Homo sapiens: one gene and its partner. The protein of the gene in region 1 purifies or fractionates together with the protein of each later gene. This does not show direct contact. Each region holds a gene or a part of one and is shown on either strand. Other genes may lie near its edges. The genes, in order: ARPC4-TTLL3 and ACTR3.

What was found.
Region 2: the proteins of ARPC4-TTLL3 (region 1) and ACTR3 fractionate together in Homo sapiens (co-fractionation; one large-scale study listed by BioGRID). This does not show direct contact.

The regions. Positions count from the first base shown.
Region 1 is NC_000003.12:9,833,633-9,837,108, forward strand, and holds the end of ARPC4-TTLL3 (ARPC4-TTLL3 fusion protein), read left to right. Parts: intron 1-794; coding exon of another isoform or gene 795-871; intron 872-1,048; coding exon 1,049-1,189; coding exon of another isoform or gene 1,190-1,293; 3' UTR 1,294-1,461; coding exon of another isoform or gene 1,462-1,857; 3' UTR 1,858-2,724; downstream 2,725-3,476. Other genes in the region: tubulin monoglycylase TTLL3, read left to right, coding at 1,049-1,275, 1,462-1,857.
Region 2 is NC_000002.12:113,955,822-113,959,642, forward strand, and holds part of ACTR3 (actin-related protein 3), read left to right. Parts: intron 1-1,538; coding exon 1,539-1,634; 3' UTR 1,635-3,821. UniProt on the Homo sapiens protein: ATP-binding component of the Arp2/3 complex, a multiprotein complex that mediates actin polymerization upon stimulation by nucleation-promoting factor (NPF).

The DNA of each region.
Region 1 (3,476 bases):
GAGCCACCAGTAGCAAGTAAAAGCCACTACTCACAAAGTATTGTTTAAAAATACACAGCCAAATTAGCTGGGCACGGTGGTGTGAGCCTGTGGTCCAGGCTACTCGCGAGGCTAATGAGGATCGCTTGAGCCCGGGAGGTTAAGGCTGCAGTGAGTTATGATCGCACCTCTGCACTCCAGCCTGGGAGACAGAGCGAGATGCTGTCTTAAAAACAAAGACACAAAAAAAGCACTTTGGGAGGCCGAGGCGGGCAGATCACTTGAGGTCAGGAGTTCGAGACCAGCCTGGCCAACATGGTGAAACCCCATCTGTACTAAAAAATACAAAAATTAGCCGAGTGTAGGGGCAGGTGCCTATAATCCCAGCTACTTGGGAGACTGAGGCACGAGAATCGCTTGAACCCAGGAAGCGGAGGTTGCAGTGAGCCGAGATTGCACCATTGCACTCCAGCCTGGGCAACAAGAGCAAAACTCTGTCTCAAAAAAAAAAAAAAAAAAAAAACCCAGCCAAATGAGTATTGTCTCCTCCAAAGTAGTCACTCTGCCTCACAGAGTGACTTATTTCAAAGATGACCTGATTTCAAAGATGCCAGGACTTAAGCCCAGGTTGCTCTCTCCAGCGCCCACGCTTTTCCCACTGCAGTATTCTGCCTTTGCCTTCAAGCAGTCACCTCTCGGGGAAAGAACTAACACATGTCCAGCACTTAACAGTTTGCCCCATACCGCTACCTGCCCAGCTCCTTTAGTGTTTACACCAACCTAGCAAGGTAGGTGCTATTATCCCCATTTTCCAGCCGAGGTATCAGGAAGTTTAAGGAAGTTGCCCAAGGTTGCACAGCTCAGAAGGGGCACAGCTGGGATGCAGACCCAGGTCTGTTGGACTCTACCCTGTTTTCTTCTCACTGCCTCTGGAGGAGGAACCGGGAGGGCTCCGTCGGCCTTCACCCCATTCCCTCCATATCCCCCCATCCTCCACACGTACCTGTTAGGGCAGCTAGGCCACCTTGGGCCCCACCCCAGGGCCTCACAGCTTCTCTTGCTCCCACAGCCCGTCACCACTTCCCCAGCCTCCACACCAAGGCCCAGCTGCCTTCTCCCCATGTACTCCGACACCAGGGCCAGGTCCTCAGACGACAGCACAGCAAGCTGGTGGGCACTAAGGCCCTGTCGACCACAGGCAAGGCCTTGAGGACTCTACCCACGGCTAAGGTCTTCATTTCCCTCCCACCGAACCTTGATTTCAAGGTGGCACCCAGCATCCTGAAGCCAAGAAAGGTGGGCCTCGACCTGTGACTCACACCCAGTGGACAGTGCTGAGCACGGGGTCAGGGCTGGAGGGCACAGGCAGAGGGCAGCTCCCAGGCTGGCTGGCACCCCAAGGGAAGAGCTGGTCTCCCTCAGAAGCCCCTTCCTCCACAGACTTCTGATCATCTCCCTCTTCTCCCCTCCTTTCACACCGAGGCTCCTGCTCTCCTGTGCCTCCGAGGCCCCCAGCTGGAAGTGCCTTGTTGCCTCTGCCCTTTGAAGTCGGAACAATTCCTAGCACCTGTCGGAAGGTCAAGGCCAAAGGCAAATTCAAGGCCAGACTGTGACAAACCCAGGGCTGAGGCCTGCCCCATGAAGAGGCTGAGCCCCCTGAAACCCCTGCCCCTTGTTGGTACATTCCAGAGGCGCAGGGGCCTGGGGGATATGAAGCTAGGGAAGCCCCTGCTTCGATTCCCCACTGCCCTTGTCCTGGATCCAACACCAAATAAAAAGAAACAAGTGAAGTATTTGGGGCTTGACTCCATTGCTGTTGGAGGGTCAAGAGTGGATGGGGCGAGGCCGTGTACCCCAGGGTCCACAGCAAGAGCCTGAGGCCATCAGCAGCTCCTCCGTGCAGCGAGGCCCAGAATTCCCACCTAAGGACAGACATGGGGCTTCCTATTTAGGGACTCCCCCAGCATCTCCGATCCAGGGGTGGGGAGCGTGAGCCTTCACTTTACAGATGAAGAAACTGAGTCTGAAAGAGGAGGCATGGCTTACCCAAGATCACGTGGCAGTGAGTCGACGCAGGGACATATTGCCAGAACTGCCGAGCACTGGGAGCCCCCCAACCCCAGAGAACAAGCCAAGCTAGCAGAATGACACCTACCGGGCATAGGAACGTTAATGCCATGAGACAGGGGAAGGAATTGGCCTTGCCTAAACCTCAGCCCTTCTGCAGAGGGCATGGGTCTATCCCTTCTTCAGCAAGGGGCCAAGGTCACCTAAAAATGAAACATCCAATAAGCCACACCCACCTGAAGAAAAGTGTGGCACTGCTTAGTTGTAGTGGGTTGAACTGTGGTCCCCTGAAAAGAGATGTCTACTTGGACCCTGTGAATGTGACCTTATGTGGGAAAAGAGTCTTTGTAGCTGGGTATGGTGGCTCACACCTGTTATCCCAGCACTTTGAGAGGCCAAGGCAGGAGATCGCTTGAGCCCGCAAGTTCAAGACCAGTCTGGGCAACATGGTGAAACCGTTTCTACAGAAAATTAGCTGGGTGTGGTGGCACACACCTGTAGTCCTAGCTACTCGGGAGGCCTAGGTGGGAGGATTACCTGAGCCTGGGAAGATCAAAACTGTGGTGAGCTGTGATCACGCCACTGCGCTCTGAGCCTGGGAGACAGAGTGAAACCCTAAATCAAAAAAAAAAAAAAAGGTCTTTGCAGATGTAAATAAATTTAAGATCTTAAATGAGATAATCCCAATGACCAGTGTGGTGCTTACATTCAATGGCAAGTGTCTTCATAAGAAAGGATTAAGGGCCGGTGGCTCACTCCTGTAATCCTAGAATTTTGGGAAGGCTGAAGTAGGTGAATCACCTAAGGTCAGGAGTTCGAGACCAGCCTGGCCAACATGGCGAAACCCCGTCTCTACTAAAAATACAAAAATTAGCCGGGCATGGTGACATGTGCCTGTAATCCCAGCTACTCGGGAGGCTGAGGCAGGAGAATTGCTTGAACTCCAGAGGTGGGGTTGCAGTGAGCTGAGATCGCGCCACTTCACTCCAGCCTGGGCGACAGACTGAGACTCTGTCTCAAAAAAAAAAAAAAAAAGGAAAGATAAGGCTGAGGCAGGAGGGTTGCTTGAGTCCAGGAGTTGGAGGGTAGCCTGCTTGGGCAACATACTGAGACCCTGCTTTAAAAACAGAGATTCAAAAACAAAACAACAACAAAAACATTAGCCAGGTGTGGCGGCACGTGCCTGTAATCCCAGCAGGAGAATCGCTTGAACCTAGGAGGCAGAGGTTGCAGTGAGTAGAGCTCACACCACTGCACTCCAGCCTGGGAAACAGAGTGAGACTCTGTCTCAAAAAAAAGATAAGGAGGCTGAAGCGGGAGGGTTGCTTGAGGCCAGGAGTTGGAGGGTAGCCTGCCTGGGCAACATACTGAGACCCTGCTTTAAAAAATATAATAGAGTAAGAAGGCTGGGTGCAGTGGCTCATGCCTGT
Region 2 (3,821 bases), on another chromosome or scaffold:
ACTGCAACCTCCACCTCCTGGGTTAAAGTGATTCTCCTGCCTCAGCCTCCCAAGTAGCTGGGACTACAGGCATGCGTCACCACACCTGGCTAATTTTGCATTTTTAGCAGAGACTGGGTTTCATCATGTTGGCTAGGTTACTCTTGAACTCCTGACCTTGGGATCTGCCCACCTTGGCCTCCCAAAGCAAAGTGTTGGGTTTACAGGTGTGAGCCACTGCTCCTGGCCTTTATTATTATTATTATTTTTTATTGAGATGAGGTCTTACTATGTTGGGCCAGGCTGGTCTCAAACTCTTGGGCTCAAGTGATCCTTCCACCTCAGCCTCCCAAAGAGCGCTGAGTTTACAGGTGTGAGCTGCTGCGCCTGGCTGAAGCTTATGTTTAAATTTATATATATATATTTAAGATAGAAGAGTCCATCAATACTTGGAGAAGAACAAAGCAAATTCCTTTAAATTGTATCTCAAAATAATAGGAAACTTTGTATATATGTGTTTGTAGTATTTTAAAAATTGGAAGTAATTTAAATTTAATTGGAAGTCATTTGAATTTAATTTTTTTTTTTTTTTTAGCTTGCTAGACATTATTTTAGAGTGACCATTTTATACTATGTTTTAAAGTTTATCTGTAGGGAAAGTTCTGTTAAAACTGGTAATTTAGTCATCAGAAGGTCCTTGTTTGTTCTGTTTAAGTATTTAAAAACATTAAGGTAAAAGTTAAGCTTCATTGCATAGAAAGTATGATGTTTTACACTGAATAAAGGGAATTATTCTAAGAATCCTGTCCCCAAATTAAAATGTCTTTAAAGCCCCCTAAAAAGGTGTTCTAGTGTTCTAATACCATTAACCTAGGAAGTATTGGTGCTTTGTTCTGGTAGTGCATGCAATATTAAAATGAAGGAGCTTTTATCTGAATTATTGAATAACTGTACAACTTTGGATTTAAAACCATTTCCAACATAAGAGGTGAAAGTTATTTTTTTCCTCAATTTTAGTCTTCTTCAATTGGGCCATATAACCTAGTTGAGTTTGTGACTTTGCCTTGAGAAATGAGGTAACACAGCATGGAACAGTCTATCTTTTCCAGACCTTGAATGAGGAAGGCAAATGATCTAGACATTTCTTAGAACTAGACGAAAAATAGTCATAGCATGACTAGGAGTAGTTTTATCTGTAGTTAGGCGAATGCCGCTTCTTTACATTATTGGTGCAATGAAAGTATGGGAAAGTCTCAACAGAACAGACTGGACATTTGAGAACCTTCCATTTTTCAAAATTTCAGAATCCTCGCAGCAGGTGTGTGAGACAAGGATTGGGGACAGGAGTTAATTGCTCTTTTGGAGTTCCGATAAAGATTTATAGCTGATTTTAAGTCATGGCTGCTAGAATTTCTAAGCTTTCATGCCATGAATGGACTAATAATAAACATTTTAGACTTAACATCTATTTTAAAGCATCACTCTTAAAGTTTATTTCAATATACCTTCAAGATGGTAGATTTTTGACCCTTATAAAAATACATATTTTTTGTTTTCAGCCTGAGTTCTACCAAGTATGCCACACCAAAAAGGATTATGAAGAAATTGGACCTAGCATTTGTCGTCACAATCCAGTGTTTGGAGTCATGTCGTAAAATTGGCTTCATAGTTATTGGGGTTAGGGAGGTGGGGAAGAGATAATCTTTCTGATTACCTGTTTTGTCTGGATGGCTGGTTTTGAGGTTTTAAACCTGACTTGAAATAGTAACACCAAACATGATTATACAGGAATATTTTAATAAGTGTATCACCATGCAGATGTAGAAGAGAGCGAAAGTGATTGTGTTTTTCTTTAGATTGAATATTTGAATCTTATGTGTAACAAAAAGAAGTGGGTTTTAGTTCTTTCTGTGCCCTGATATTTTGTATATTAATGAATTATCCAAGATTCGATGGGATTTATCAGTGTGTAGATAGCTCTATAATGCTTGAATTGTACACTTCTAAGTGTGCAGTGCAAGAGCTTGTTTATATTTCATACTTTTTATACTTTGAGGAAAAAAAGTCAAAGAAAAATTGTATTTGAGGGAAAAAACCATGACCAAGTAAAGGATAAATTCAAAAAATAGCCTCATGAGACTTGGCATACACACTCGTGGGATTCCAGTTATTATGGAGTGCTTCCATCCCTCTCCACCCCTTCCCCCCAAAAGGTTTTCTTTGCAAGTGCTTTTGGAACTAAGAGCTAGTATCTTGGATTAACTGATGCCTGCTAGTGCTTTCTGATTACTCGCATTCTGTTTCTTGCTTTAAAAGAAGAGTAAAGACAAGAGTGTTGGACCAGTATTGCAGTTCTGTAGTGTCATTTCTTATAAAAAACAAAACAACAACAATAATTTATCAAAATTGGCATATTTAAAGCCTAACATTCTAATAAAGGCACAAATTTCTTTTTAATACTTGTTTCAGCCTCTTTAATCTCTTTATAAGTTAACTAATAAATCTATTTTCTTCAGACTTCTGCAATAGTTCTTTAAAATCACAACAGTTAGCAAGCTGACTTTTGTAATGTGCTCAATACAAATACTTGTGAACTTTTAATATGTTGAGTGCTTTCATTTTGATAACTGGATCTCCATTTGATATTTTCATTTGTATAACTCATTTGCAGTCTGAAAATTTTTTTTAGTGCCAGTCCCTGAACATATCATTGAAAGTTAATTTTCTTTGCATTTTAAAATATCTGGATTATGAAGAAAAAGTGATGAAAATAAATTAAAACTGAATTACCTTTTCTAATGTTTTTTTTTTTTAAGTAATGTAATTCTATTTTGTTTTTATGTATGTGATATCTGTTTCTGTTGAGATTTGGGAGTTATTGAAATCTCTGTAATGTGTATGGTAGAAAATTTCTTGTGACCTTAAAATTTTACCAGTTATTTATAGAAAGAGAAAATGGGAAATGTTTTATAGGCTTTTTACTAGCAGTATCAGTGAACACTTGAACTCCATTATTCATGAAAATAACACGTTAGGATTGGAATACGTCTATTCAAAAGTGAAAGAATATAAAGTGTTTAGTTTTTTGTTTTTACTCTAAAGATAGAATTGGGGAGTAAACTTCAGTTTTTGTTTAGAGTGGATCTGAATATTTAAAATCCTATAATAATTTTTGTGAATCTTCATTCTTTGAGTATGGGATTGTAAAAGACAAACTATATCCTACAGTAGTATCATCATCAGTATCAAAGGTCTCCTTTTTTTACTTGGAAAAGTAATTCACAAACATTATAAAAATACTATTCAAACAGTACCAAAGAGTAGATTAGCAAAAGTAAGTTTTTTTCCCTAGCCTGTCTCATTTTTCCATCATTACACAGACTACTTGGAATGTCTTAGATGTCCTTGTATTGTAATTTTCTGTGTAGGTAGAAATAAATGTAGCTTTCTTATTTTACACAAATAGGAACTTACTGTATATACTGTTCTGCACTTTGCTTTTATTAAAGATCTTTTGATAAAGAACTATATTGATAAGCAGTAAAGATGTCATGCTCCTGGCCCAATAAAATATTGTTAGCATTGTCATAAATATGTCTTTTCCACCGGCGATGGTTGGGTAGTTAAGTGAATAAGCTAGAAAGACATGTTTATAAAGCTATTTGATGACAATCTCAGGCATATTTATACAGAGATGTTCTTAACTGTTTGCTACAAAAACATGAAGATCAAAAACTTTCTTGAAGCTTACGCTTAACTTATTTGGGGAAACAAAACTCCAGCCCTTCTTGTGTATGTTCTGATATCCCTTTGCTCTACTTTTAGAGGAGTGAACCCTAATA